Linked DNA regions of Homo sapiens. The protein of the gene in region 2 interacts with the protein of the main gene of each other region in a pairwise test. Each region holds a gene or a part of one and is shown on either strand. Other genes may lie near its edges. The genes, in order: PKNOX1 and MPP3.

What was found.
Region 1: the proteins of MPP3 (region 2) and PKNOX1 interact in binary tests that used the Homo sapiens proteins (3 or more experiments, as listed by UniProt).

Annotation. Positions count from the first base shown.
Region 1 is NC_000021.9:43,022,569-43,037,457, reverse strand, and holds the end of PKNOX1 (homeobox protein PKNOX1), read right to left. Parts: intron 12,588-14,889; coding exon 12,511-12,587; intron 8,757-12,510; coding exon 8,584-8,756; intron 7,569-8,583; coding exon 7,357-7,568; 3' UTR 3,527-7,356; downstream 1-3,526. UniProt on the Homo sapiens protein: Activates transcription in the presence of PBX1A and HOXA1.
Region 2 is NC_000017.11:43,825,999-43,841,609, forward strand, and holds the start of MPP3 (MAGUK p55 subfamily member 3), read right to left. Parts: upstream 7,149-15,611; 5' UTR 7,103-7,148; intron 6,822-7,102; 5' UTR 6,763-6,821; intron 6,254-6,762; exon of another isoform or gene 6,079-6,253; intron 6,040-6,078; exon of another isoform or gene 5,984-6,039; coding exon of another isoform or gene 5,909-5,983; coding exon 5,884-5,908; intron 5,680-5,883; coding exon 5,561-5,679; intron 5,324-5,560; coding exon 5,246-5,323; intron 4,134-5,245; coding exon of another isoform or gene 4,110-4,133; coding exon 4,029-4,109; intron 3,794-4,028; coding exon 3,656-3,793; intron 1,835-3,655; coding exon 1,753-1,834; intron 1-1,752. UniProt on the Homo sapiens protein: Participates in cell spreading through the phosphoinositide-3-kinase (PI3K) pathway by connecting CADM1 to DLG1 and the regulatory subunit of phosphoinositide-3-kinase (PI3K). Stabilizes HTR2C at the plasma membrane and prevents its desensitization.

The DNA.
Region 1 (14,889 bases), on a different chromosome or scaffold from region 2:
GTACCCGGCCAATTTAGCTGTTTAGACACACAAATCCTTACATTATGTTACGATTGCCCAGGGTAGTCAGCAGGGTCACGTGCCGCACAGGCCCATGGCTGGGAGCAATAGGCTAAGCCGCACAGGCTGTGTGTACAGTGAGCTGTGTGAGTGCGCTGTGATGTTCCTACGGGATGGAGTCCCCTACAGAGGCATTTCTCAGAGCACAGCCCATTGTTAAGTGACACATGACTGTCCTGTCAGGTTCATTCCAGAATGGCTGGCCCCGTGATATTCCCGCCAGCACCACGCAAGTTCCCGTTTCTGCAGATCCCCAATCCCAGCTTCCTCATTGCGGCCGGCAGACGGGGCGGCACGCCCCTGGGCTCCAGCTCACACTCCCTGGGCGTGGCGAGGCCGTGCAGTCTTCACGTGCTGCTTGGTCATCTGGTCTCCTTTCAATGAACTATTAATATCCGCTGTCATGGTTCTAGAGACTTCTAGTTGGTTACCTGCTGAGTTGCAGGAATCCCCCTAACACTGGCTCCTTGCCGGCTTTATCCATTAAAAAGAAGGAACGAGGAAAGTGCTCCTCTCAGTCACTACCTGTTAATGGTCCTCTGTGTCCTCCAATGCACAGAAAAACTGAATTTTGATCTGGCCAAATCACCCATATTTTGCCTTAGGATTTATGCCTTTGAGGTCTCAAAATAAGGGCTTCTTCCCCAAGGGAACAAAGATAAGCTCCCGTATCATCTTCCAGTGGCTCACGGCCATGCCCAGAACCCATGGCGCCTGCCTCTGCTCTCCCCTCTCCTCTTCACTGCTGTCTCCCAGGCCACGAGTCCCTCCCGGCTGCCCAGCCCCATGTCCTCCTGCCATCTACCCTCCCACAGCAACCCACACTCTCACGGCTTCTGCTGCGGGAAGCGCTCCTTCCTGGGATTCCCTGGCACAGTTCAGATGAGTATTTCTCCACCTTCGCTGGCTGCTCTCCTCTAGCTCCACGGTCTCTATGACCCAGGTCTACACTAACACACAAGACAATGTAAACTGTTAAGGGTTTCACAACTTATTTCTGACATGGATTGCTGTGTTAAGATAATATGAAAGAAAACTCAGTGAATATAAAGTAAAATATTTTAAAGTATAACTGATTTTTCTACAGGCCATTTTCTAAAAATGTCTAAGCAACTAAAGCTGTCATTAAAATGTTTCTTTTCTTTTCTTTTTTTTTTTTTTTGAGACGGAGTCTCGCTCTGTCGCCCAGGCTGGAGTGCAGTGGTGTGAACTTGGCTCACCACAACTTCGGTCTCACGGGTTCGTGGAATTCTCCTGCCTCAGCCTCCCGGGTAGCCGGGACTACAGGCATGCACCACCATGCCCGGCTAATTTTTTATATTTTTAGTAGAGACGGGGTTTCACCATACTGGCCAGGCTGGTCTGGAACTCCTGACCTTGTGATCTACTGGCCTCGGCCTCCCAAAGTGCTGGGATTACAGGTGTGAGCCACTGCGCCCAGCCTAAAATGTTTCTTTTGAAAGATGCTGGAATAAAAGAATTCCTTATTTATTTATTTATTTATTTATTTATTTATTTATTTTGGGGCAGAGCCTTGCTCTGTCGCCCAGACTGCAGTGAAGTGGCGTGGTCTCGGCTCACTACAATCTCCACCTCCTGGGTTCAAGCGATTCTCCTGCCTGAGCTTCCCGAGTAGCTGGGATTTCAGGCACCCACCACCATGCCCGACTAATTTTTTTATTTTTAGTAGAGACCAGGTTTCTCCGTGATGGCCAGGCTGGTCTCAAACTCCTGACCTCAGGTGATCTGCCTGCCTCGGCCTCCCAAAGTGCTGGGACTAAAGGTGTGAGCCACCACGCCCGGTCTAGAATTCCTGATTTATATTAAAACCATTCTTGCTTTTTACAGGGTTGAAGTCCTTAGCTGCTTAGACATTTTTAGAAAATGGCCTGTAGAAAAATCAGTTATATTTTAAAATATTTTACTTTATATTCACTGAGTTTTCTTTCATATTATCTTAACACAGCAATCCATGTCAGAAATAAGTTGTGAAGCCCTTAACAGTTTACATTGTCTTGTGTGTTAGTGTAGACCTGGGTTGTAGAGACTGTGGAGCTAGAGGAGAGCAGCCAGTGAAGGTGGAGAAATACTCATCTGAACTGTGCCAGGGAATCCCAGGAAGGAGCGCTTCCCGCAGCAGAAGCCATGAGAGTGTGGGTTGCTGTGGGAGATAAAGAATGGAAACATCTGTATAAGATAATACCTTCTAAATACGATTTTTATACAGAATACTTACAAATTATCCAAGTAAGCAACACTAACTAGTCCTTTATAGACTACAAAAGCCAGACCTGAGGAGGCCTGGCAGAGAGGAGCCTGCAGGTGCCAGACCCGACCTGGGCTGCATGGTGAAGACGTGGGATTGGGAAAAGCTGGCCCCAGGCCCAGATGCCACCCCGGGCATTCACTGCTTTCAGTCACATGTGCTTAGATGCTATATAGTCACTAGTCTCGCAGATTTTATAAACAATGATAGTTAAACAACTATCCTAGGTCTTAGTGAAGGTAAAAATATCCCACTGTACAAGGGCAAAAATAATTTGTACTAAGAATTTTTTTTTTTTTTGAGACAGAGTCTCGCTCTATGCCCCAGGCTGGAGTGCAGTGGGACAATCTCAGCTCACTGCAACCTCCGCCTCCCGGATTCAAGAGATTCTCCTGCCTCAGCTTCCCGAGTAGCTGGGATTACAGGTGCCTGCCACCATGCCTGGCTAATTTTTGTGTTTGTAGTAGAGATGGGGTTTCACCATGTTGGCCAGACTGATCTCAAACTCCTGACCTCAGGTGATCCGCCCACCCTGGCCTCACAAAGTGCTGGGATTACAGGCGGGAGCCACCGCGCCCGGCCTTGTACTAAGAATTTCTTCTGAGAGTATACATAATAGAATGGCATGAAAGCTAAAAACAGTAGACATTGTTTATGACATTCATATAATTCAAAAACTGTGAAACACTAAATATTTAATCCAAATATTTCTTATTTTCTGGATTTGCTAGACCATTACTCACTTCCTCATCAGTCTTTAGATGGAGAGATAGAATCTTATTAGTCATAAACATCATTGTAAGGCTAGAATAAACCTTATAAGCCAGTTCTTCCTTTTCATAAATGAAGCCCTGGAAGCCTAGAGAGACTGGGGCTGCCTGAGGCCCCACATTAATAAAGTTCATGCCCGTCCTCTCACCTCTGAACTAAGGGAGCTGGAAATACAACACAGTGCCTCAGTTTTCTGTAACCAATGAAAACATTGCTTGAAACAATACAGTCAGCTGTCACTACTAATTACCAACAAGACTCATAATTTTGCATGTGGTTTTTAAAATACTAAGTCTGCTGACTTTAGCCTCTAAGCATGAACAGTTGTTGGGAGTTATAACACTCTGGACAACAAAGATTAAAAACCCTCTGAAATTGTTTTAATGTACCTTTTAAATCTTCAGGAACTTTCTTGTCATGAAAATTTATAATATGAACTATGAAAGGGATTATGTTAGCTTACTGATGAATCATTATCTTCTTGTAACTATCAAAATAATTAGATTTGTGGAAAACTATAATAAAAAACATAAAAGCTACCTGTTTCCATTTTCTGCCTGAACAGCCAATGAATGAACAAAGTAAGGAATTTAAGAAAAGATTCTTGGACATGTAAATGGACCTGACTAGTCCGATGCAGTGTGGTCCTAGTTTCTCAATATGCAGGGGTGACTACAGACCCTACATGTCACCAGAAAACATGAAAACATTCTCAATGTTTTACATAAAATGGAGAAGCAGCTTTTGGTGACATGAGCTTTATAAAATAAAACATCCATAAAGCAAGTTTCTATTTTTAATTTTTTTGCTTTGATAAATCAATTGCTTCACAAAAATCCTTTTTAAAGACAACAATCCAAGAAAACATATTGTTACAGTATTCACATTTCAAAGATTGTCAGTTTCAAAGACCGAATATAACTAGAACGAAAGATTGCTGAGTTCTTTCTGTCTCTAAGTGCCAGGAATGGGCCTTCACAAGGGGCAGAACCCCCTCTGGACACCCTGGAGTTTGTCTCAATGAAAAGTGCCCACTGCTACCTCACACAGGCAGGAGATGGATCACTCTCAGGTCACACAGACACAACTCCCAGAGCCCTTAGCCGTGAGGGTTTCTTTTGCATGCTCGATAAACACTTCCACTCATCTTACTATCTGGAATCAAAGCGCAAAGGCCAAGCTAGTCCCTCGGTGGGAGCGAGCTGGAACCCAGCACAGCCAGCCCTGCCACTCCTGCTCCACAGGTGCAGGGCAGGAATAACAGCAACATGCTCAATTTGGGTCTCAAGACACATTCAAAAGGAGCCTTCATAGGGAAAAACTCAACAAGAATAAAACTGGAACCGAATCTGATCATTTAAAACGAAATCTTAGAGGGGGTCACACTTTTACAGATTCTCTCCACTGTCCAAGGGCTGGAGAACAGGTGTTTTAAGGTGCCAACTGACCTCAAACATGCTGGGCAGTGATTTTGCAAACTGAAACAGCTTGCCATGTAGAAGCTAGTTAAAAGCACCCATTGCAGAGAGGTTAAAGGAAACTCAGGCTATGTCCATAAGCACCCTTTCTCTAAGTGATCTTTATCCTATTCCTCTGAATTTAGTAAGAATTTAGGAAAGTTGAAGAAAGTTTGCAGCTGGAGAGAATGCACACTGTATCATTCAGCATGGGTGTTTAACTCTCAGGCCAGAGCTTCCCAGTGCCACCGAGGTTCAGGCAGTGCTCTCTTTTTATAGATGGGGGTCTCACTGTGTTGCCCAAGATGGAGTGCAGTGGCTATTCACAGGTGCAAGCATAGTGCACTGCAGCCTCAAACTCCTGGCACATGCCATCCTCTGCCTCAGACTCCCGAGTAGCTGGAACTAGAGGCACGCCCTACTGCGCCGGGCAGGGGCAGCACTCTTAAATTCAATCCACTGCTTAGTGAATGTGATTTCTAGTGGGGGAAAGAAACGGTGACCTATACATGAGTCTACATTCTGTGAATGGCTTCCACTAATCTACACTAAAGAGCAAGCAGCCGAAGAGACGGAGGGTGGTGAGGGAAGGAGGAAGGGCTGGCTGGCTTTCATGGGTGCTTATTTTAAGGAGTCCAACAAAGTTGGAACTTAGGTTAAAAATGATCTTATAGACTTGACTTAAAATATGAGAAGACAGTTCACAAATGAGGAACGCAATGGTGGCTTTAAGATGTCATTCTCGGCCGGGCGCGGTGGCTCACACCTGTAATCCCAGCACTTTGGGAGGCTGAGGCAGGCAGATCACCTGAGGTCGGGAGTTCGAGACCAGCCCGACCAACATGGAGAAACCCATCTCTACTAAAAATACAAAATTAGCCGGGTGTGGTGGCGCATGCCTGTAATCCCAGCTACTCAGGAGGCTAAGGAAGGAGAATTGCTTGAACATAAGAGGTGGAGGTTGCAGTGAGCTGAGATTGCACCATTGCCCTCCAGCCTGGGCAACAAGAGCAAAACTCTGTCTCAAAAAAAAAATGTCATTCTCTCCCCAAAAGACTTGATAACCAAGTCTTTCAGTAAAGCTCCTGAAAGATTTTAAAACAAATTTCTGTGTGTTTCCCACTGACTTCTTAACCTCAATTAATATATTCTTTTGGGAAAAATCAATTCCAGAAAAAACTCTTCACTAGCTTAAAATGTCCCTTGGCTTACAACCAATCATTACTGTTGACTCTCAAGAACTGAAGACATTCCCGACCCTGTAAACAAATGAACTTCAGCCATACCATTTCAGATGATATGAAGACATTCTGTATGAAACACCGTGGCCTGTTTTCTGAGAAAAAGCACCACTCCTAAGTAAACAATGAAAACAAATCAAAACCAAAGAAAACAGAACCCAGCCCACTCTCTCGGTTCATCTTGTTACCAGGAAACAGAAGTCCTACAGTTATTCCAAATCTCACGTGGTCAAGTGAGCAGGAGGGCTCTGAAAAGTCGAAAGCAACAACGTACAAGAGAACACTGACACCAGGAGACCAGCCACAAACGCAAACGTAGGAGCCAACCCGTGGGGGCTGCCGAGGTGCCCTCGCCAGACCAGCTCGCTGCTGGGACTCCAGGGATGTCCGCTAGTTAAGTAATAAAGTCTGAATATCTGCTGTTTGCCCTAGCTCTGAGCCAATGGGGTAGAGCACATTTTATATTAGTTTATAATAAACATTCTGTGCATAACATATTTTGAAGTTAAAACTTTTAAAACAATACACAGCTAACATGGTAAAGCGACCATGCAACTGTGGTCAGATTTAAATTAGACTGGAGTATGTACGGTGAGAGCTCCTAACGGGTCACTGGCTACCATTTCACCTCACTTACCTGAAGTCCTGTTTAGCAGATATCTTTCGATATATGTTTAGATCAAGTGTAAAATGCAATCTGAGCATTACATATCAACAAAAATTTGCAGATATCAAAATTTCATTAAATAGCTGTTTCTTTTATAGTAGTAAATGTTCATCACTACCCGGGGAGAGCAAAGAACCATGGAACGGTAGCTAACTTTGGGCAGGTTCATTAAATTTGGTCAATTCAGAACATTCCAAATTGAAATATTAATAGCAAGCATGTATTGTTTCTTCTCTAGAAATTTTATCCTCAATATAGTCATCATCCAATTCATAACGAATTTATAAAAATAGCTTTTTTATCCAATAATTCCAGCAAGGTAAAAATAGGAGTTTCTTTTTCTATATAGCAAATGAAACAGGCTCACTGAACATGAGGGGACTTAGGCTTGCTAAGCTTGCCGTCCATCCACTCACGACGAAACCACACTCAGTCTAGGCGTGTGCCGTTGTCACCGCACACTGGCAGTTTCGGGTGCAGCAGCTTCTTTCAAATCCATGGGCCACACAAATCAACCAGCCCACTGAGATCTGCTGGAACCACAGAACTAAGTGACAACCGCATCACGGTTTAGAAAATGGCAGCGCTATTCCTTAATCTAATTAGGGATTCAAGGTGGGGAGGGAGTGGTGTGTCATTCCTCACAATCTAGCGTTAAACCTTTAAAGAATTTCTTTAAAAATCCACACACACGCACACACGCACACACACACACACACACACACACACACACACTTGAAAGAAGTCGCTGCACCGGCAAAGACGCGCTTTAAGCTTACTATGAAATACAAAAGTGCACTCTTCTATATCTACATATAAAACATATTAGAAATAAAACTGTGTAAAATGTTTGCTGTGCAAACTCCAAAAAGTCAGGTGCGTCTGCTCCTGCCCCTACTGCAGGGAGTCACTGTTCTCCAAGACCAGCCCGCTGATGTGGGCAGGGGCCAGGGCACCCGCATCCTCCTCTGTGCTGTCCACAGACTCGTCCTCGCTCTGCCCTGCCATCATGACCTGCTGCACCGCCAGGGTGGCCCCGTCCGAGGACAGAGACTGAAGGCTGTCCACGTTCATGTTCACGGGCGTGGTGATGGTGACAACAGCTCCTGCGGCAGGATGAAGGTGTGTCATTATTTAAATTAGTACTCACAGAAAAACACTTTATTACTCAATTGGGTGCTGTTTGCTCGTTTGACCTAAAGTTAAAATAAAACACCTATATATGTTTAGGGAATGTTCAACAGGGATTTAAGAAACTGTTTCTGGGCCGGGCGCGGTAGCTCATGCCTGTAATCCCAGCACTTTGGGAGGCTGAGGCAGGCGGATAACGAGGTCAGGAGATCAAGACCATCCTGGTGAACACGGTGAAACCCCGTCTCTACTAAAAATACAAAAAATTAGCCGGGCGTGGTGGCAGGCACCTGTAGCTACTCCGAGCTACTCGGGAGGCTGAGGCAGGAGAATGGCGGGAACCTGGTAGGCAGAGGTTTCAGTGAGCCGAGATTGCGCCATTGCACTCCAGCCTGGGCAACAGAGTGAGACTCTGTCTCAAAAAAAAAAAAAAAAAAAAACAAAGCAAACAAATAAAAAAAAATAAAAACACATGCACACAAAACCATCCAAAATATGAAGACCTCATGCGAACAGAAAGATGCCTATAAAACACATCAGAATGGCTGCCTACGTCAGGGGATGGAGAGCAGAGGCCACAGGGAACAAGCAAAAACAAGAGAAGGGCATGGGGGATGAAGAGAAAGAAGCCACGTGGTGAGAACGGGGTAAGTCCCTCCTCCACACCCGGCGTCGGAGGGAAAAGGAGAGCAAACACAGAAGCAAAGGAGAAGATCCATGGGCATGACTGTGTCTTTGAGACAGAATTAATGATTTCATATCTCTATCACGTGTTTTACATTCTCTACTACTGGTGCTCCTAACTCTTACTGAGAGCTCCCGTGCACGCAGAATGCAGCTTCCTCATGTTTTAGTTGCAGAGAAAGAGAACCACGCACTCTCGTTCACCACATTACCTGAGGCTCACAGCTAACAGGCCTGATCCAGGCCTCTTGTTCATAATCCCCACCCCATGGTCCACCATGTCTGGCCTTGGCCGGCCACCTGTACCTTCCGACATGGTGAGCTCGCTCGGCGGTGGCTGTGCGACTCCTGATGCAATAGAATCAGGCCAAAACCTCTGAACTGGCCGGTTCTGAGCAGTTTTTTTCTTTGTTTTGGGGGTCTCTGAACAACTTGAATCCAACATTGGCTGAAGAATTCGTCTTCTGGCATTGATGAACCTGGAGTCAACAAAGAGAAGCTTCCATGAAAACAGCCTTCGTAAAGACCCTATACAGGATTAACAAATCCTTCTAACAAACACGCTGCTCTACGAAGCACGCTACAAAGAATGACTCAAGTTCTCCACTATAGTAACTACTTAAGAGGACTCAACAGCTCTTCTGAATTCTCTAAATGCCCAGAAACACAGAGCCTGTTGTTTTAAAAATCATGCAAATAAGCACCAACTCGTCCATGGCATTTTTTTTTTTGTCTCAACTCCTTTAGGGCATGTTTGTGAACTAGATACTCATAACGACATAGATGATACTGTTGAATTTGTGAATCTGACACTGTTTTCCCTAAGGAAGAAAAATGTTAAAGAAGCAAGACTTTCTGTAGTGCCATCATGCCTGAGACGATCGGGCAGTCTGCACTCGTCTGGACGTCACCAGATCACCAACGGGGCCGAGCCTCTGGGTGGCAACGTGTCTGAGCCATCAGAGAATGGGACTGCCACCTCCTCTTGTTTCACCACAAAGCACGATCTAAGGCAAGAGCTGCATCTTTTCAAAAACCATTCCCAATGATGAGCTGTTTCTTAGATGACTGGAGGCGTAAGTCCTCCAGTGGTCCTAGACATGTGGCCAGCACAGCACGTAGGCACCAGCAGTGATGAAATCCCCGACAGACGCTGGCGACTCTGTCAGACCAGGCACTCACGCCTGTGATAAGACTCCACAGAGAACGAGAGCAGCAACAATCACAGGCTGGCAGGGCAGGCTGGACATTGTTTCTGTATTTTTGAGATGGAGTCTCGCCCTGTCGCACAGGCTGGAGTGCAGTGGCACGATCTCAGCTCACCGCAACCTCCGCCTCCTGGGTTTAAGCGATTCTGCTGCCTCAGCCTCCTGAGTAGGTGGGACTATAGGCGCCCACCACCTCGCCCAGCTCATTTTTGTATTTTTAGTAAACGGGGTTACACCATGTTGGCCAAGATGGTCTCGATCTCTTCACCTTGTGATCTGCCTGCCTTGGTCTCCGAAAGTGCTGGGATTACAGATGTGAGCCACTGCACCTGGCCCAACAGTCACAGGTTGGCAAGGCAGGCTGGACATTGTTTCATATCAAATGAGTATGATAGCAATCTCAAAATACATTAAGATTAAAGGCTGCTGTCTTCAGTTCCCATTCTTATGCTATGAGCTGTTGCCTTTAAATGTGAGAAAGTGCAAGGAGACTCAAATCCCTAGGCCAGCTTTTCCTCCTGCAGTGACTAGAGGACAAAGATAGCAAACCAGACATGCGTTCTGCTGCACCCACCACCCTATGCCACTGACTGGGCCACTTTGCTACAAAAAGAGCTGAAATGGAAAGAAACGGAAAGAAAAACAACATCTGTCCCGTGAAAGCGCCTATCAAACCAGAACCCGTCCAGATTCATGCATTACCCCAACCTAACGCAAAAGCAGCAATACCAACCATGCTTAAGGCCTCGTTTCTGTCTTCTTTTTTCAGTAACATGAATGATAAAGTAGTTGACCTCTTGCTAGAGTCACACATTGCTCATCTATTAAAAGCCAGACTTCTCTATCTGGATAGCTGAGTAGCCATGTTCACGATATCAGGGAAACAAAAGCATTACTTTTAGACTCAGATTCTACTCTGGTTTGTCACTGTGACAACTTCTTTCTTTTTTTAATGCCCCCCTCTGCAAAACAACAACACTAGAACTGGATCAGCTCTAAGGTTGCTTAATTTTAAAAGTCCAAGATTTAAAAATATCTACAATTATATTAGCACACAGTCTAATAATAATGAAGCAGATCGGATCCCGCCATGCTTCATTTAGAGGAACCTGGTGATCCCTGCAGCACAAGCTCCATGGCCACCCACAACCCCAGCGAGACCTGGGAGGGAAGGCCCCACTGCTACTGTAATGTGTTGGTTGTTTTCTTTTTTTTTGAGACTGAGTCTCACCCTGTCGCCCAGGCTGGAGTGCAATGGTGCGATCTGGGCTCACTGCAACCTCCACCTCCCGAGTTCAAGCCATTCTACTGCCTTAGCCTCCTCAGTAGCTGGGATTACAGGTGTGCACCACCACACGCAGCTAATTTTTCTATTTTTAGTAGAGACAGGATTTCACCATGTTGGTCAGGCTGGTATTGAACTCCTGACCTCGTGATCTGCCCACCTCGGCCTCCCAAAGTGCTGGGATTACAGGTGTGAGCCACCGCGCCTGGCCTGTAATGTGTTTTTAAATCATTCTTATTCAAAGCTGCTACCAGCAGAGGCATGAACTAATGATGGGTGTGTGTATCTCACTCCAAGATGTAATGTTTGTAAATACAAAAGAAAAGAAAGTCACAAAAAGTAAAAGTAGCTACAAATATTAAAGATTTCAGAAATTTGGAATTTTTAAGTTATATTATTAAACTGTTATTATTACTAAAAATTAAAAGTTGATACTAAACCTAGATAAGACAATTCGTTAATGTAACATAGTAGCAAGTCAGGGAACACCAGGAAATCATGAATGCAGAAAAGCAGGAGGGTGCTGAGCAGTGACGGGGCACCAGCACATCCAGAGACGCATCCCTCCCACTTCAGCCCACCCACCACAGGTGTGCCCCAACCAAAGTATGTGGTTTCCACATAGCTCCAGGAAAACAAGCACATGAGCAGAATATAACAACCACTGCAGCAACAACATACTCAGAATCTTTAAATTTTTGTTAATATTCTATTTAAAAGATTTAACAGGAAATAACGCAAATAGTATAGTCTGTTGTGACTACCCACATCTAAAAGAATGGCAAGAATGCAGGATCATGGAAGTACTTATGCAACCCCGAAGCATACCTCCCGCACACACGACTGCACAAAGACAAAGACTTTCTTGCTGGAACTTCAACAAGTTCACATTTTAGCACAGCTAAGATAAAGATAATAATGTTTACAACTGGAAGAATTTGTGCTTTCTTCTTTTATGCATGCCAGTTTTATTAAGCTGAAACTGTTTCCTACATCTGAATAAGTAAATTTAAAAAATGTGACAAGTGACTAATAACCAAAATGGAAGACCACCCCCCACTTCAGTGCCACCTAGGAACACGCACAAGCCCTTACTGAAGAAAATACATCTGGCCAGAGTCTAAGTGTCCACAGCAATGTTTGACAGCAGGACTAGAAGGGGACGTTTTATGAAATGTCCTCCTGGGTGTTTCTTTGCTAGGAATGGCTCCCAGACTCTTCTGTGGAGCAGGACCCCCACAAGAAAGAGTGGCAGAGGGTCCCCTCATGGGGCAGGACCTCTCACTCTTGGCCTCCCACCATCCAGAGGCTCATCCACTAACAACACATCACAGTTTTGTATGAATGTGGGGCTTGGGGACAGTAGCACCCTAGAGAAACAGCTCTAAAGAGGCAGGCAGGATGCAGTCCATAATGAGGTATTGATATGAAAACTTAGGTTGAACCTGGTTTATTCCTAAGTCTCCTGCTCCCATTGCCCATTAAAAGAACTCATATTTTTAGTCGGGTGCAGTGACTCACACCCATGATCCCAATACTTTGAGAAGCTGAGGTGGGAGGATCACTTGAGGCCAGGAGTTCGAGACCAGCCTGGGCAACACAGCAAGACCCCGTCTCAGTTGGGAAAAAAGAAAAAGAGAGACCTCCTATTTTCAGCAAGATTTCACCATGTATTGGTGCCAGGGTTTCCAAGTGCTCTACCGTGCTGACAGCATGATTTCAGGAAGCAGGGCACCTTACCAGTTGTTGACTTGGAGTAGTGTCAAATTTGTCTGAGCAGCAATCTGTTTTTTCTCATCCTCTGTTGGGTAGGGATGCTGAAAATAAAAAAAGAAGGTTACCATGGCCTTCGAGTTTACAAAGGAAATCAAGACGATTTAGGCAAAATGTGAGCATTACATAATCATTAGAAAATAATGGTCACGTCAACAGTGCTTCTAGCCAAAACCTAACTGTAGTCTCACGAACAAAGTGTTTCTCCTCGTCCCAGGAATGTCCTAGTGCTGCAGTGGCTGGTTAGTGCATAGGCCAAGGCAGACCGCCCCCCACGTTTAACGGTTCAGCGGTGACGATAACAGCAGCGACATCATGAGGAGCAGCTATGCAGTCCAGCGGTGAGTCTACACCAGGCTTGATACAATCTATAGATTCTTTATCAACTTTATTGAACTTTAACTTATGAACAATAAACTACATCCATATAAAGAGGATGGGTGGATGCGTTCTGGCCCGGGAGCCTCTGCCACAAGCAATACACAGCACATTTCAATTACCTTGGTCCATTCTATAATAATTCACTGATTCCTCAGAAGCACCTGCTGAGACAGTCACTGTCAGTGTCTTTATTTTACAGAAGAGGAGACTGAGGCATGAAGTGTTTACAAACTGCCCCCATCCCACAGCTGGTGAAACAGGTGGAGTAGGAAATGGCCAGGCAGGCTGGGGGACAAATTTCCATCATGGGTACCACAGGAATCAACTGACACTGGGATAAGCTGATGCCATCGACGGCTTTCCTGGGGTGAGATCTCTGCTGGATTCACCTGTGCTGTCAGTAAGGAACTGAACCCAGGGCTGGTGACAGGAGTGCCTGCTATGGTATTCTTCTTTTATGTATGATTGAAACATTTCACATACAAAAAATCCAACCAGAGGGCCAGGCGCGGTGCCTCACGCCTGTAATCTCAGCACTTTGGGAGGCTGAGGCAGGTGGATAACTTGAGGTCAGGAGTTCGAGACCAGCCTGGCCATCTGGGAAAAAAAAAAAAAAATCTGGCCAGGTGTGGTGGCTCACGCCTGTAATCCCAGTACTTTGGGAGGCCAAGGTGGCCAGATCACGAGGTCAGGAGATCAAGACCATCCTGGCTAACACGGTGAAACCTTATCTCTACTAAAAATACAAAAAATTAGCCGGGCATGGTGGCACACACCTGTAGTCCCAGCTATTCGGGAGGCTGAGGCAGAAGAATTGCTTGAACCCAGGAAGCGGAGGTTGCAGTGAGCCGAGATCGCGCCACTGCACTCCAGCCTGGGAGTGCAGAAAAATAAAAAAAAAAAATCCAATCAGAACTAGATAGCAAAACTCACAGAAGTACCAACCGAAAATGATTTCTAGCTATGGTAAATAATTTCTCCAAGGTTGATGACTGTCTATATGTGGAAACCAACACGACATTTACTCTAAAACCTGAATGCACTAAAGCCCTTGATTTGGGATCAACAAGGACCCAAGAGAATGAACGGTACCAGCAAAGTCAGCAGTGAGAGTTTACTTTGGCTTTGACGTGAAAGGAACACTGAGTGCGGCGTGGAAACACCCCTGCCCATCACATGGGGACGGAGCGGCCTCAGATGTGCCTCAGCAGTGATGGGTTTGTTTCCTCAAACTAACGGCAGTGTGACTCAACTTGACTCCATCAATGAGTGTGTGGCTCTGAGCTCAAGGTCATGGAAACAGAAATACTGTTCTCCCCCTTTAAAAAGCTCATAAAATAGAAACAGGGCAGGAAACACGAGCACACAAGCAGAAAACACCAAACAGCCAGAGATGCTGCCCCAGAGTATGCGGGAAACTACAGGGGGTCGGCGCTGCCAAGAAACGAGGGTGAGGAGGGACTGAGGACGCCCCACAGGAAAAAACGCGGCGTCTTCACTGGACATGATGGGCAGGGTTTATTGTTTGAGAAATTATTAAAACATTAAAGGAAACCTGAAAGGAGAGTACTCACCCAATCCCACCACTTGGTGTTGTTCTATCATTATGTTATACATATACTGATTGGCTGTAATAATCGCAATGTGTGTAAATATACCAACATGCTGCCTTTTGACTTCCTATCCTTCACTAAACCTCCCGACTGCTTAGAGCCCTCATTCCTCATGTTAACTATGCATATGATACTCCATCAAACCAGTACGTCCCCATCTACATGCCGACCTGCTTTCCATTATTATATTGAACGACACTAACATTCTTACACACAAATCTTTCCGTTTTCTTGTGACTGATCTCTTTGAACCAATTTCTCGGAGCAGCCCCGCTGCTCACAGGTAGCACGCCTTTCTCCTGACATGTGTGGCTTGCTACCTTTTATGCCCATGGAAGCGGCTCGGTGGAGA
Region 2 (15,611 bases):
TAAGTGCTGGGCACCTCACTCGGCATGCAGGGCTCAAATCACCCAGTAAAATCTCCAATTTACAAGTTGGCACCTGAGACCCAGGAAGATTAAGCAGCTTGCCTAAGGCCACATTGCTGAGAAATAATGAAGCCAGTATTCAAACACAGTTATTATGATGTAGAAAGCCTGTGTTCTTTTTGCTATAATCTCTGCTTCTTTAAAATTATCATTAACTCTTAGAATGGCATTCTTAAGTCTTAACAAGGAAAGACAAAGGCACCAATGAAGACATCATTAAGAGTGTAAACACACTATGAGCCTCTGCCTGAATGACTAATGTCTCTGCATATTAGGGCCCTATATGCTACTCAAAGTGGGCACTGGCCCGGCTGCATCAGCATCACCTGGAGGCAGGTTAAAAGTGCAGAATCTTCGGCCTAGCTCAGACCTGCTGAATCAGTCTGCATTTTAACAAGATGCTCAGGGAATTCGTGGACTCGTTAATGTTTGCAAAGTGCTGGTCTAGGATTCTCTGCAACGATGACCCCCCAGACTTTGGGGGTAACATCGCCCTATACCAGGAGGTTTGTCTCCCAGCTTAGTAGCTCTTCCACACACCGGTGATTCTCAACCTTTCTACCCAAACGAATCTGGGGCACAAACACTCTCTTTGTAATAGTAGCTTGACAAGACCTGGGATGGTGGGGAAGGGTGTCAACCCTGTCCCACAGTTAGTAATCCCGCAAGCCCATGCTATATTCTTAACTGTCACAGTCCTTGGACTAAACCAACGCATGAGCTTTTTCTCAATCACCCCAAAGTACTCCATGACTATTTATATATATATATATTTTTTTTTTTTTTCTTTTTTTTTTGAGACGGTCTCACTGCGTCGCCCACTCTAGAGTGTAGTGGTGTAATCACGGCTCACTGCAACCTCAAACTCCTGGGCTCAAACAATCTTCCTGCCTGGGCCTCCCGAACAGCTAGGACTACAGGTGTGGGCCACCCGTGCATGGCCTATATTTTCTTTTTCTTTTTTTCTTTTTTTTGAGACGGAATTTCACTCTTGTTGCCCAGGCGGGAGCGCAATGGCGCGATCTCGGCTCACTGCAACCTCCACCTCCCAGATTCAAGCGATTCTCTTGCCTCAGCCTTCCCAAGTAGCTGTGATTATAGGCATGTGCCACCAAGCCTGGCTAATTTTGTATTTTTAGTAGAGATGGGGTTTCTCTGTGTGGGTCAGGCTGGTCTCGAACTCCCGACCTCAGGTGATCCGCCCACCTCGGCCTCCCAAAATGCTGGGATTACAGGCGTGAGCCACTGTGCCTGGCTTTTTTTTTTTTTTCTTTTTTTTTTTTTTTTGAGACAGAGTCTCACTCTGTTGCCCAGACTGGAGTGCAGCAGCATGATCTTGGCTCACTGCAACCTCCGCCTCCCAGGTTTGTGTGTTTAGTAGAAATGGGGTTTCGCCATGTTGGCTAGGCTGGTCTGGAACTCCTGGCTTCAAGTGATCCGCCTGCCTCGGCCTCTTAAAGTGCTGGGATTACAGGTGTGCACCACCATGCCCAGCTGGCCTATATTTTCTATTAAAATTTCTACTGACTTGGGAAGGAGATGAGAATTCCAGCCACAACCCCAGAAAGCAAAGCAAATCCCAAACAGGTGACCTGATAGGAGGGAGGTAAGGGGACCTATTAGCAAAGGTGGAGGGCTCTGGAACAATGGCCATGATCGGGGCTGGGCCAGCTTTGCACTGCCGCCACTCACCGCTCCTGTCTGCTGCGCCTCCTCGCATGATCCTGGCCACCACAACAGCCCCTGAGTGCTCGTCCCGCCGGATGGTGGCACCCTGAACCCGAGACAGAAGAGACAGGTTCTTAAGCAGCAGCTCCAAACCTCAGACCCCTACTCTCTGGACCCAACACAGCCTCCCCAGTCCCTCCCTCTGACAGTCCAGAGAGATCAGTGGGGACCTTCCCAATGCTGAAGACAAAACAAAACCAACATCCCCCATTAATATAGCCCTGCACTGTACAGTTTACAAGGCACAATAATGCTGCAACATTTTAGATGAGGGACTGGGGCTCAGAGAAGTTAAATATCCTCAAGGTCACCCAGCTGGTAAAGGGGAAAGCTTTTTGTGATGCCAAATCCAGTAAGTTCTCCATCACATCTCTCTCATATCACAGTTCCTACCACTTGCAAAGACATTTAATAATGAGGATGACACGTGCCAGCTAATTCTCACCCTGCCTCTACCCAATCACAGGGTTACCGGGCCTTCTGCTGCTGCTGAGGGAAACCAATTATGCACCCCAGCCAGGGCTTCGGGACCAGGACTTGGCCCATGAAGCACAGCAGAGATGACACTTAGGATGAGAAAGGCACTAACGAGCCCTCGATTTCCTGCACCACACAGGCCGGACTGCAGCAGGACGGCAGAAAGCTTAAGAGCTAAGCTCTAGGGCTGGACAGCCTTGGGTGTGAACACAGTTCTGCCGTTTACAAAAAGCATGTGGACTTAACAAGGAAATCTCTTATCCTCTCCAAGCCTGTTTCCTGTGAGATGTGGGACAGCATTTAACTCACAGTGTTGTTGCAAGGATTCCACTCAAGGCACTTAGTACACAGTAAGCACTCAACATATGTTAACCACTTATTAGTGGCTGTAACTGCAAACACATTTGCACACTTATTGTTAACATCATCTGTGCCATCTATTTGAAGTACGTAAGATAATTATTGCTAGAAAGAGAGGCCATCAGCTAAGAACCTCAGGACTTCTAGCCCCCCAGAACTGAGAACTTTCCAGCATCGCTATCCATCATTTATTCAGCTCTGAACCGCCAGCACCCAATACAGAGCCTGGATAGGAGGGCTCACAATGTGTTTGCTAAATCAATGGATGGCCACTCCATTTTACAAGTGAGGAAACAGAGGCAGAGGAGAGATCCTCGTCTGTTTGCAGAAGAGGCTCGTCGGAGGTCATTTGGGGAAAGTTGGAAATAGAGAATGCCAGCTGTGGGATCCTCTGGAGCCAATCTCAATTCTCTGGGCTTCCACCACTTCTGAGCATCTCATAAACAACGCTGTCCCTTTGCTCGGTAAATCAATGCTGAACCAGGACCAAAGTGATAGCAGTCTGTCTGCTGGGGAGAGGAATGCCCTGTGCTTCCTCAACATTCAGAGCAGGCATTGTCACACGTTTTCTATAAGGGGCCACATGTAAATATTTGAGGCCAGCCACACAGTCTCTGTCACAACGACTCAACTCTGCCATCGCACTATAAAGGCAGCCACAGCCAATCTGTAAGTGAATGGGCCTGGTTGTGCTCCAAAAAAGCTTTATTTTAAAAAATAAGCTGTGGGCTGGTTTTGGCCCTTGGGCTGTAGTTTGTCCATTTCTGGCTTAAAGCATGATCAGGGTCACCCTGTACAATTGTGCAGGTTATTAACTACACAAAGGGTGTTGGCCACAGTTGAGAGGGGCTGTATCCACCTAGAGAAAGGGGTGCCCTGCACACAGAGGCACCACAGGGATGAGCAGCAGCGCAGGCAAAGCTGCCGTCACTCACTCTGAAGACTTCGGGGAGGATCTTGTCCAGTGTTCTGGGTGGGGGTGAGAGGCAGGGGAAGAGTGGGTTAGAGAGGGGCAGGCAGCAGCACCTACCAGGGGTTCCTTGTTCTTCACCAAGCGGACGATCTTCACCGATTCCTCATCAAAATCCTCATCGATATTGTCAGGCAGAGGCGGGAGAACGGGGTCAAAATTCTTCTGGGCAACCGTGTCATGTACCATGAGCACAGCCTGCCGGGAAAGCCAGAGAAAAGGAAGGCTGGCCCGCCGCTCACAGGGTCAGCAGGCCGCAGCTGGCCGGTGGTATGGAGGGTGGCAGACGCCATGCCAGAGAGACAACTGCCCAGACACTAGTGCTGAGGATCGCTCCCTCAGTCTCCACTCCTCAGCCTCATTAGGAGAGCTCCCTCCGCCCCCATCCCAGGAGACCCAGAGGCATGGCTGGGCAGGGGCTCTGTGTGACTACCCTCAGGTGCGGGGTGGACAGCAGCTGGAGCAGCTCCCTCTCATCACTGTGCACGGAGGCGGCCTGCAACTCCTCCATCACCTGCAGAGAATGAGACAGGCGCCACTGATGGCTAGAGGTGCCCCTGCCCCATATCTGCTGGGTCCTTCCTCTTTGGAAGGGCCCACCCAGCTGCAGCCCCCAGGGGCACACCAGACCCTCAACCACCCGACGACGATGATCCTGGGAACATCACACCAGGGGTCAGGAGCAGCTCTATGGGGCCATCCTCCAAGGAGCCACCGTTTTAAGCCCTACGTGCTTTCTGCTTTATGTGGATCTTCTCACTGAACCCTCGCAACCAACTTGATGCAGAGGGTCTTGTTACTTTGCCATTTTACAGATGAGAATCCTGAGACTCAAAGAGATTAAACATTTTGCCCGAAGTCACAGAGCTCATATACAGCACAGCTAGGATTTGAACCTGGGCTTATCTGGCTCTCAGATGCTATTTTATGAATGAGGAAATGGGAGCTCAGAGAGGTTGAGTGGCCTACTTAACATCACAGAGCTGGTGGGACAGGCAGCGCTGAGCCTGGGAGCCAGGCAATCTAATGTGCCCCTAATCACATTCCACAGTGGAGAAGGGCCCAGGGCTCTGCACCCACAAGCTGCACTCATCCCTCCCCAGGCCATCTCCTGGGGTTAGGTGAGTTTATTCAGGAACTGATCTTAGTAATCAACCAGAATGGGTTTTCCCCAACCACGCAACATAGACGACTAGGTCCACAAGAAATTAAGAAGCGTTCCTTTAAAAAATGAGAAGCCTGAGCCAGTATGCGGGGACACACTGTAGGTCCCTTGACTTCAGGAAAGCACAGACATAATGTCTTATTGACCTATTCAAATCACCAGTCCTCAGGGCAGTTTGGGAACTGCTGAGCCAATCCAATGCTCTCATTTACAGCAGAGGAAGCAGACTTGCTAAAGAACACACAGTAAGTGGGCAGCTCCATGTCACAGTGTCTCCCAGCCCAGTCCAAGGCTCACGGGTTCCTCCCTACCTTTCGGGGAACCCAGAGAGAGGAAGAGAAGGAGGAGGACAAGGGAAGAAAACACCTCTTCACCTTTGGGCTCCTGATTCCCGGTGTCCCCACACTAAGCAAGCGAGGCAAGATGAAGGAGCCCTACAGGGTGGGGAGTGGGGCAGACACTGTAAGGAGAAACCTGGGGCTTACGTCCTCAGCGAGGGCCACAGCGCTGTGCAGAACTGGGGTTGGACTTTGCCTTTCATAATAGCGAAGCTTCTCATGAATCTGCAAAGACAGAGTATTTCAGATGCACCCTGGACACCACACATCCCACCCACGGCTGTGGGGACATTTGGGGCAGCAGACTGGGCCACTGACAGGGCACCATAAGAGAAAGTCCTGTGTAGTGGGCAAGTGAAGGCCTTCCTGGGGCAGGGAGATGACTAGGATGACCTCAGACGGCCACAGACAGCTAGAAAGACCTCTAGACACCCTTCCACGCAGGATGACGTGGGACTTCACCTTCATTAAGTAACTGAGGCTTTTTTCACTGAAAACATCCCTCAGGAAGCCCATCTCCTCCTTGTGGTTGGAGTCAGGTCTGAGCTGGGAGGTCAGCAGGGCCAGGGTTTCATGCAAACCTGGGGAGAGGTGAGAAAAACAAAGGATAGCAAACGCAGTGGGTGCTCCCTGCCCCCGAGGAGCCCGAGTGGGGCCTCAAACAGCACTTCAGTCCTGCCGTGAGGACATTCTCTCCCCAGGCTCTCACTGCCAGGGCCTGGAGGCTGCCAGGCAGGCTCTTGTCTTCAGGACTGTGGCAGGTCCAGCCGGGGGGAGGTACTTACCAGAGTCCTCCGATAGCACTGGCATGCTGGCGTTGTCACCTCCCGACCTCTCCCTGCAGATTCTGGGAGAAGGGGGTGGAGGTGGGTATTGAAGCTCCATCAAGCATATTTATTGAACAAACTGACTACACATCTACTGTGTTCTCTGAGACCAGGCTGTGGACAGAGAGGATGGGAACAAATAACTCTGCTTACTTTTTTCAGAGAGGAAGGAAATAAAGCTAAGATGTGCTGAGTGTCCTCGATGTGCCAAGCATTGTGTGGGGTGATTTCTATGATAAACTTTTTGTCTGCACAAAGTCCTGAGAAATGACTGCGAATGTTCCCATTTTATTGATGAAGAAACAGCGGCGTGGAAGCTTTCAGTAAGCTGTGGGTCAAAATCCATATTCAAGCAGGCTCTTCCAGGCTGGCCTTGGAGGTGCCAAGTGACCCTGCCTGACAGTGTCAGCTGTCCTCCGCAGCGCGCCCCCTCCACTGCAACCTTCTAAGAGCCCTGGCTCAAGTCTCCTGCTGGGACACACCTTCCACAACTACCTGGCTGGGCCTACAAGCCCCCTGTCCCCGACCCCCCAAGACCCAACCCAAAGGGAGCCTCCAGACTGGAGTGCAGAGAGGAGGGGGGGAAATGGGAGTCGGGCTTCCACTATGCAGGAGGGGGGACCCCTATCTCATGAGGCCCTCCAAAGGTGCTCTGCAGCACGTGGACCTCAAAAAGTCCTCCTTAGGAAGAGGAGAAGGAGAGTCATGACTGATTCATTCCGCAAACATGGAGCCAGCCCGCAGCGCCGAGCCCCGGTGCCACTAAGAGGCGTAAGAGCGGCCCCGGGCCCTCCAGCCTCCGCCCCGCCCCGCCCCGCCACGCCACGCCGGACTCACCCTCGGGCTGCTCCCCGCAGGAGGCCGAGCACCGACTCCCGCTCGCTCTCCGAAGGAACCTGTGGGAGAACAAGGAGCGCACTGGGCGCAGGAGCAGCGACCCCGGGGGACCTCGGAGGGCGGTCCCGGAGGACGCGGAGCAGCAGGGAGCGGGGGGCGCGCGGCGGGGCGGGCGCGGGAAGAGGGAGGCGGGGGCCGAGGGGCGGGGTTGAGACTCCCGCGGTGGGCTCGGTGGGCCGCGAGGCTGTCCGGGAGCACGGGAGGAGGGTCTCGGCCCGGCCTCCCGCCCCTCCCGCCGCGGCGCCCAGCTCCCTCGTCCGTTCCCCTCGCGGCCTCCTACCTCGTCGCGCCGGGATGTGTGCTCCGCGAACGGGAGCCGCGCGAGTGCCCAGAGCCTGGGCCGCCGCTGGCTCCGCCTTCCCGGACCCCTCCCTGCGGCTGCCGCGCCGGGCGGGGGTGGCGGAGCCTGAGGAGGCGCGGCGCGGGGAGGAGGCGCGGCGCGGGGAGGAGGCGGGGGAGGAGCGGAGGCCGCCCTCCGCGTCTGGCACCGCCGCACCCTCCGGGCCGGGCTCCGCTAGCCGGCGTCGTACCCGCTCCCGCTCTCCCGCTCCCTGAGTCCCCTGCCTGTGTCCCCCCGCACCCTGGCACACAGCCAGACTTCCCTTCCGCCCGCGCAACCCACCCTCCGCGAGTGGAGGGGTGGACACCTGCTCAACAGAGAATTCGATTTTGCAAACATTTATTGAGCGCCCTCCAGGTGCCAGGCGCTGTGCCAGGGGCCGGGGCTTCAAAGACGACCAAGGCACAGATCCTGGGTTTGAAGATCTCCAGAGGTGGGGCGGGGGGCCGGTCGGATGCGAGGGCAACTCGCTGTAACAATGCAACGCGCTGGGAAAGATTTATCGGTGCACGCTGCCCTGGGGACGCGGAGCAGGGGAGGAGAAGTCAGGCTGGAGAGGAGGGGGACTCCATTCTGCCCGGCTGCAGGGGAGTGAGGCTACATAGCAGAGGCGAGCAGCATCCAGGGGCTTTACTGGAAAAAGAGCTCTGAAATGGCCATGACGATAACTGACTTATATTGTGCTGTCTCCATGCCCAGGTACTCCTCAGATCACTTCCCTTCACAGTAGTTCCTGATATCAAGACCATTCTTATTTTGGTTCTGCAATTGAGGAAACTGAGGTTCCTGGTGAAAGAATGTGTATAGGGGAGAGCATAGGAACTGCTGGGTGAGTGAGCAGGTGGTTGTGGGTATTAAAAGGTGAGGAGTGGGTGAGTGAGTGGGCCCCCTTCCCTCAATCCCAGCAGCAAAGAACGGCACAGCACATGTCAGGAGAGGTGGACCCAGAGGTTAAGTCTGGAAGTAAATCTAGCCCTGCACAGTAACCAGGGAAAATGGGTTGGCAGGCCCCACAGGCTGTAGTGCATGGGGAGGCTGTGAGAGGCAGCAAATGTCATGATGATGTTTCCCCTCATTCCTCAAAAATTATCCTCATTCCTCAAGAAATATCTACACTATTGCTCCTCAAAATGTAACGTGCCTGAGACTCACTAGGGGGTTGTGTAATGCTGGAGTGGTGCCAGATTCTGAATTTCTGACAAGCTCCCAGGTGATGTGACGCCACTGGTCTGCAGACCACACTTTTTGAGTGGAGAGAGACTGCATGAGACACATTCTTAGCTGCAATGTTTACTGTTGGAAAAATAATGAGAACCATCTGATCCATCTGATATGGGTCAAATGATTTTGGACAAGAACACCAGGAAGTGGTGTTGGAACAAGTAGATATTTATGTGCCTGAAGGGACCCAATCCCTACCTCACACCATATTCAAAACGCAATTTAAGAGAGATCATTGGCCTAAACATAAAGCAAATCGATAAAGCTACTAGAATAAAACAGGAGGGTATCTTTTAAATCTTGGGGTATGCAAAGATTTCCTAGAAAGGATACAAAAAAGCCAGGCATGGTGGCATGAGCCTGTATCCCACATACTCAGGAGGCTGAGGCAGGCAAATTGCTTGAGCCCAAGAGTTCAAGGCTGCAGTGAACTATGATCAGTCCACTGCGCTTCAGCTTGGGTGACAAAGAGACACCGTTTCTAAAAAAAGAAAAAATTTTTAAAAAAAGCATGGACCCTGAAAACAATTGATAAATGGACCTCATCAAAATTTAAAACTCCTGCTCATCAAAAAACACTATTGGCCAGGTGCAGTGGCTCATGCCTGTAATCCCAGCACTTTGGGAAGCCAAGGTGGGTGGATCATCTGAGGTCAGGATATTGAGACCATCCTGGCTAACACAGTGAAACCCCATCTCTACTAAAAATACAAAAAATTAGCCAGGCATGGTGGCACACACCTGTGTCCGTTCCAGCTACTCAGGAGGCTGAGGCAGGAGAATTGCTTGAACCCGGGAGGCAGAGGTTGCAGTGAGCCAAGATCAGGCCACTGCACTCCAGCCTGGGTGACAGAGTGAGACTCCATCTCAAAAAAAAAAAAAAAAAAGACCGGGCGCAGTGGCTCACGTCTGTAATCCTAGCACTTTGGGAGGTCAAGGCGGGCAGATCACGAGGTCAGGAGATGGAGACCATTCTGGCTAACATGGTTAAACCCCGTCTCTACTAAAAATACCAAAAATTAGCCGGGTGTGGTGGCGGAGGTTGCAGGGAGTGGAGATCGCGCCACTGCACTCCAGCCTGGGCCACAGGGTGAGGCTCCGTCTCAAAACAAAACAAAACAAAACAAAACAAAACAAAACAAAACAAAACACTATTAAGAAAATAGGACCAGGGACCAGGTGCAGTGGCCCACACCTGTAATCCCTTCAAGCACTTTAAGAGTTCAAGGCGGGTGAATGGCTTGAGCCCAGGAGTTCGAGACCAGCCTGGGCAACACGGCAAAACCCAGTCGGTATCTACTAAAATTACAAAAACTAGCCAGGCATGTTGGCTTGTGCCAGTAGTCCCAGCTGCTCAGGAGACTGAGGCAGGAGGATCACTTGAGCCTGGGAAGCAGAGGTTACAGTGAGCCATGATTGTGACACTGCACTCCAGGCTGGGTGACAGAGTAAGACCCTGTCTCAAAAAAAAAAAAAGAAAAGAAAAGAAAAAAGAAAGAAAAGGAAAGGAAAAGAAAAGAGGCAAGCCACAGACTGGGAGACTAGGAAGAAATATATCTGACAAAGAGATTGTATTCAGAATAAAGAACTCCTGTAACTCAATAAAAAGACAAACCACCCAATCAAAAAACAGGCAAAAGATATGAACATGCACTTCACAAAAGAAGATATACAAATAACCAATAAGCATATGAGAAAGCACTCATCCAACATCATTTGTCATCAGGGAAATGCAAATTAAAACCTGTCATAGTCAGTTCCTGCTGCTATAACAAAATACCACAGTAATTTATAAGAAGTAATAGTAATTTATTGCTTACAGTTCTAGAGGCCGGAAAGTCCAAGATCAAGGGGCCAGCTGGTTCAGTGTCTGGTGAGGGCCTGTTCCTCACTGATGGCACTGGATAGGTATCCTCACATGGTGGAAGAGAAAGACAGGCATAGGCCAGGCGCGGTGGCTCACGCCTGTAATCCCAGCACCTTGGGAGGCTGAGGCAGGTGGATCACAAGGTCAAGAGATCAAGACCATCCTGGCCAGCATGGCAAAACCCCGTCTCTACTAAAAATACAAAAAAATAGCCAGGCGTGGTGGCAGGCACCTGTAGTCCCAGCTACTTGGGAGGCTGAGGCAGGAGAATGGCGTGAACCCGGAAGGCAGAGCTTGCAGTGAGCTGAGATCGCGCCACTGCACTCCAGCCTGGGCGACAGAGCGAGACTCCATCTCAAAAAAAAAAAAAGAAAGAAAGAAAGACGGGCATAAAGGGATGAACGCTGTGTCCTCATGTGGCAGTAGGGGCCAAAGGGACTAGGGTGCTCCCTTCAAGTTCTCTTATAAGGGCATTAATCCCATTCAAGTGTCCATCAAGAAGTGAATGGATAAATATTCATTCACTTGTGGTATATCCATACAATGGCATATTTACTCACCAATAAAAAGAAACAAATTACAAGAAAGAAATGATGAAAAAATTTAAGATGGCAGAGTATACAATTGATATTAAAAATTTATGACTTTCCGGCCAGGCACGGTGGCTCACGCCTGTAATCCCAGCACTTTGGGAGGCCGAGGCGGGCAGATCACAAGGTCAGGAGATCGAGACCATCCTGGCCAACATAGTGAAACTCCGTCTCTACTAAAAATACAAAAATTAGCTGGGCTTGGTGGCACGTGCCTGTAATCCCAGCTACTCAGGAGGCTGAGGCAGGAGAATAGCTTGAACCAGGGAGTCAGAGGTTGCAGTGAGCCGAGATCGCACCACTGCACTCCAGCCTGGTGACAGAGCGAGACTCTGTCTTAAAAACAAACAAACAAACAAAAAAAACATTATGACTTTCCTGTGGACAAAAATAATTATTAAGTATAATGAAAGAAAAAATCCAAACTAAGATATCAAGAAAGATTAAATACCAATTTATAAACTTAATAGGAAAAATGAAAGACCTATTGATATTTGGGAGAAAAAAACTTTAAAATTCTAGTGAAGGACATAAAAGATAAAATGTACCTCAAATGGCTAGGGAAAGAACAGTTCAATAGTGCAATTATATTAATTCATTCTGAAATAATCTTTATACCCAATGCAATTCCAATTAAAATATAAGAAGTATTTTTCACAGAGAATTTATTAAATGCTACCACAATTCATCAGGAAAAATAAACATTGGTGAATAATAGGAAAGTTCTGGGAAAAAAAGAGTTATGGGACCAAGGGAGGTGGGATTTAAAAATATGAAAACAATTTTTAAAGTTTAGTACTGAGGCTATAGTCCCAGGACTCTGGGAGGCCGAAGCAGGTAGATCACTTGAGCCCAGGAGTTCAAGAACAGCCTGGGCAACATGGCAAAACCCCATCTCTACAAAAAATGCAAAAATTATCTGGGTGTAGTGGTGCTCACCTGTAGTCCCAGATGCTCAGGAGGCTGAAGCAGAATTGCCTGAACCCAGGAGTTCGAGGCTGCAGTGAGCCATGACCACACCACTGCACTCAAGTCTGGGTGACACAGCAAGACCCTGTCTCAAAAAAAATGAATTAATAAAGTTTAGTACTAAAGAGGCAATCAACAGCTAGACAAATAGAACAGAATTGAAAGAACAGAAATAGTCCTCATGTATACTGTCTTTTAATATTTGAGAAAGGTGACATTTAAGTGGAAGGAGAGGAATTTTTTTTTTTTTTTAATGTGGGGACAGGCCAGGTGCAGTGGCTCACACCTGTAATCGCAGCAGTTTGGGAGGCTGAGGCGGGAGGATCTCTTGAGCCCAGGAATTCAAGACCAGCTTGGGCAACATAGCAAGACCTGTCTCTACTAAAAATAAAAAAATTAAAAAAAATTGATGCATGTGCAAGTAGACCCAGCTACTCAGGAGGCTGAGGTGGGAGGATTGCTTGAGCTCAGCAGATAGAGGTTGCAGTGAGCCGTGATCATGCCACTGCACTCCAGCTCGGGCATCAGAGCAAGACCCTGTCTCAAAATAAAATAAGGTATGGCGACAATTACAATAGCTACTCTTTATGGGAAAAAAAAAGAGAGAGGAAAAAAGGCTGGGCGCAGTGGTTCATGCCTGTAATCCCAGCACTTCGGTAGGTGGAGGCGGGCAGATCACCTGCCCTCCTCTGCAAGATTATAAAAATAAATTTACTGAGAAAATATTTTGATGTGAGAAGTGAGGTAGGGATACAGCTTTCTTTCGCTTTTGTTTTGAGACGGGGTCTTGCTCTGCGGCCAGGCGGGAGTGCAGTGGCGAGATCTCGTCTCACTGCAAGCTCCGCCTCCCGGGTTCAAGTGATTCTCCTGCCTCAGCCTCCTGAGTAGCTAGGATTACAGGCACCCGCCACCACACCCAGCTAATGTTGTTGTTGTTGTTGTTGTTGTTGTTGTTGTTGTTTGAGACGGAGTCTCGCTCTGTCACCCAGGCTGGAGTGCAGTGGTGCGATCTCGGCTCACTGCAAGCTCCGCCTCCCGGGTTCACGCCATTCTCCTGCCTCAGCCTCCCGAGTAGCTGGGACTACAGGTGCCTGCCACCACGCCAGGCTAATTTTTTGTATTTTTAGTAGAGACGGGATTTCACCGTGTTAGCCAGGATGGTCTCGATCTCTTGACCTCGTGATCCGCCCGCTTTGGCCTCCCAAAGTGCTGGGATTACAAGCATGAGCCACCGCGCCCGGCTGCAGTGAGGGAAACATTTCTAAGTAAATTCCAAATCCAAATCTATAAAGGAAAAGGTGGATATGTGTGATTTAAAAAAGGGTAAACATTTTTATAGGTAAAAATATTATTTGCAACATATGATATCATATGCAATATGATAAAGTTAAATTCCTCAATTTAAAAGAGTTTACATAAATGAGAAAAGATGAAAAAATTTTAAACGGTCAAAGAAAATAGTCTAATACAAAAAATACATAGCCAATAAACACAGAAAACTGATGCTAGATCTCCTGTTTAAAAAAAAAAAAAAAGGAAAAAAAATCCAAAAGATGCACAACCTCACTCATAATCGAAGAATTCTTAGCCAAAATAGGAGGCAATGTCCCTTGTTAAGACAAAAATGTTTAAGTCTGTTGACATCCAGTGCTATCAAGGATGTGGGGAAAAGACACATTTACACATTTGGAAGGAATATTATTTGGTGCAAACTTTCTGGGACACGATCTGGTAATATTTGTTAAAATATTATATGTACATGTCCTTTAGTCCAGAGGATATTTGGGCAAGCAGAATGGAAGAAAAGAGAAGCAGAGAGAGATGTTTAGGTGGATGAGAGCTTGGAGCAGGAGTGCTGGGAGAGGCTGCATCATAGGACAGGGCAGGTGCAGCCAGGGCGGAGTTGGCCCAGATGGCCGGAAGCTCAGGGCAGGAGTCGCCTCACCCAGCCAGGGCTCGGTCAAGGTGCTCGTTTAGAGCAGCTGCACAGGGAACAGGAAGATGAGCTCAATGCCAGAGGAATGAATGACTTTGGGTCCATCTGGACAGGGAGAAGAGACTTTACCAAGCATGCTCTGGAAAAAAAGAGAATGCCAACGATCCTTGAAGAGGTGACAGAGAGAATCTGCTTCAGGCTACAGGTGTGCATTGTCATTGCATTTGGCATTCAGCCCAGACACCATAGGGAACCAGAAATAATTCCAAGAGGAGCAATGGGCTAGTGCCCAGGCATGCAGCAAGAGGGCAAGTCAGAAGCGGGTGGAGAAAGGGCAGGCTCAGCTCCATTTACTTCTCAATGAGAAGGGAAATTACTGTACTGGGGTTTTGGGGTTTTTTTGTTTTGTTTTGTTTTTTGAGATTTCTGATAACTTTTCCTATTGTTTGTGGCTTTTGTTACCTATTTCTCTTATTTTTATTTTTGTTTTATTTTTTTGAGACAGAGTATTGCTCTGTCACCCAGGCTGGAATGCAATGGCACGATCTCAGCTCATTACAACCTCCGCCTCCCGGGTTCAAGCGATCCTCCAGCCTCAGCCTCCCAAGTTGCTGGGACTACAGGCATGCGCCACCATTCCCAGCCAGTCCTAGAATTCTTATGTTGTGCTTTTTTCAAATCTGCTGTCACTTTTTGTTCTTTCCAGTTCCCTGCCAAAAATGTCAAGCTTGACTTTTACCTCCTTGAGCACAGTAAGAATAGTTGTGTTAAGGCTGATCCTGCTATTTACAGTATATGGAGTCCCCACGGGTCTGTTTTGTTGTTTCTGCATATTCTTGCTTATTGAGTCTTCTCATAGATTTGGTTATCTTTGATTATATATTAGATGGTATTTGAAAAAACTACTTGTAAAAATGATCAGCTTAGGCTGATGCTATTTTCCTCCAGAAAGGATTTTTCACTAATATCTTTAAGGTACCCGAGGGTAGGGATGGGGAAGGTGCTGCCAGACAAGAGCCACTTTTAATTCAAGTTCAAAGCTTGAAGTTTCCTGGGACACCTAAATGACAGAAAGCTGGGTGGAAGTCCATGGTGGCCTGGTTTGTACAGCCTTTTGGGGTCCCAGCCTAATGTGACCAAAAATATGCCAGATTCCATTCCCTGCCCCCAGAGGGCCCTAGACTCCTAGTTCATCCTCTTCGCTGCTGCTTTGGAATCAGTAAATGCCCACAGGGAAAACAAGCACATACACTGAGCTTATCTTTCTGGCTTCCTGTCTACTTGCATGCAGACTTATGCCTGGGAACCCCCATGCTCTTTTTAGCTTTTCACTGCTTTTTTTTTTTTTTTAAGACAGTCTCGCTCTGTCACCCAGGCTGGAGTGCAGTGACATGCTCACGGCTGACTGCAGCCTCGACCCCTCAGGCTCAAGTGATCCTCCCACCTCAGCCTCCCCAGTATACTTTCTTTTTTCTTAATAAACTTTATATTTTGGAATAATTTTAGATTTACAGAAAAGTTGCAAAGATAGTACAGAGAGTTCCTGAACACCCTTTCCCCTGTTTTCTCTAATGTTAGCATCTTACATAATCATGATACATTTGTCAAAACTAAGACATGAACATTGGAATGTTATTATTAAGGAAATTCCAGACTTTATTAATCTTTCACTAGTTTTTCCACTAATATCCTTTCTCTGTTCTGGGATCCAGTCCAAGATAACACATTGCAGTTAGCCTTCAAAGTTTCTGAGAAGATTTGAAATTTACCTATCAGTAAACGTGGGCATTTACTGATTGAGCTCCTGAGGCATTACCAGTCTCCCATTACTGCCCTCCTCCATCATTTTCCCTGTCATTCCCCGAA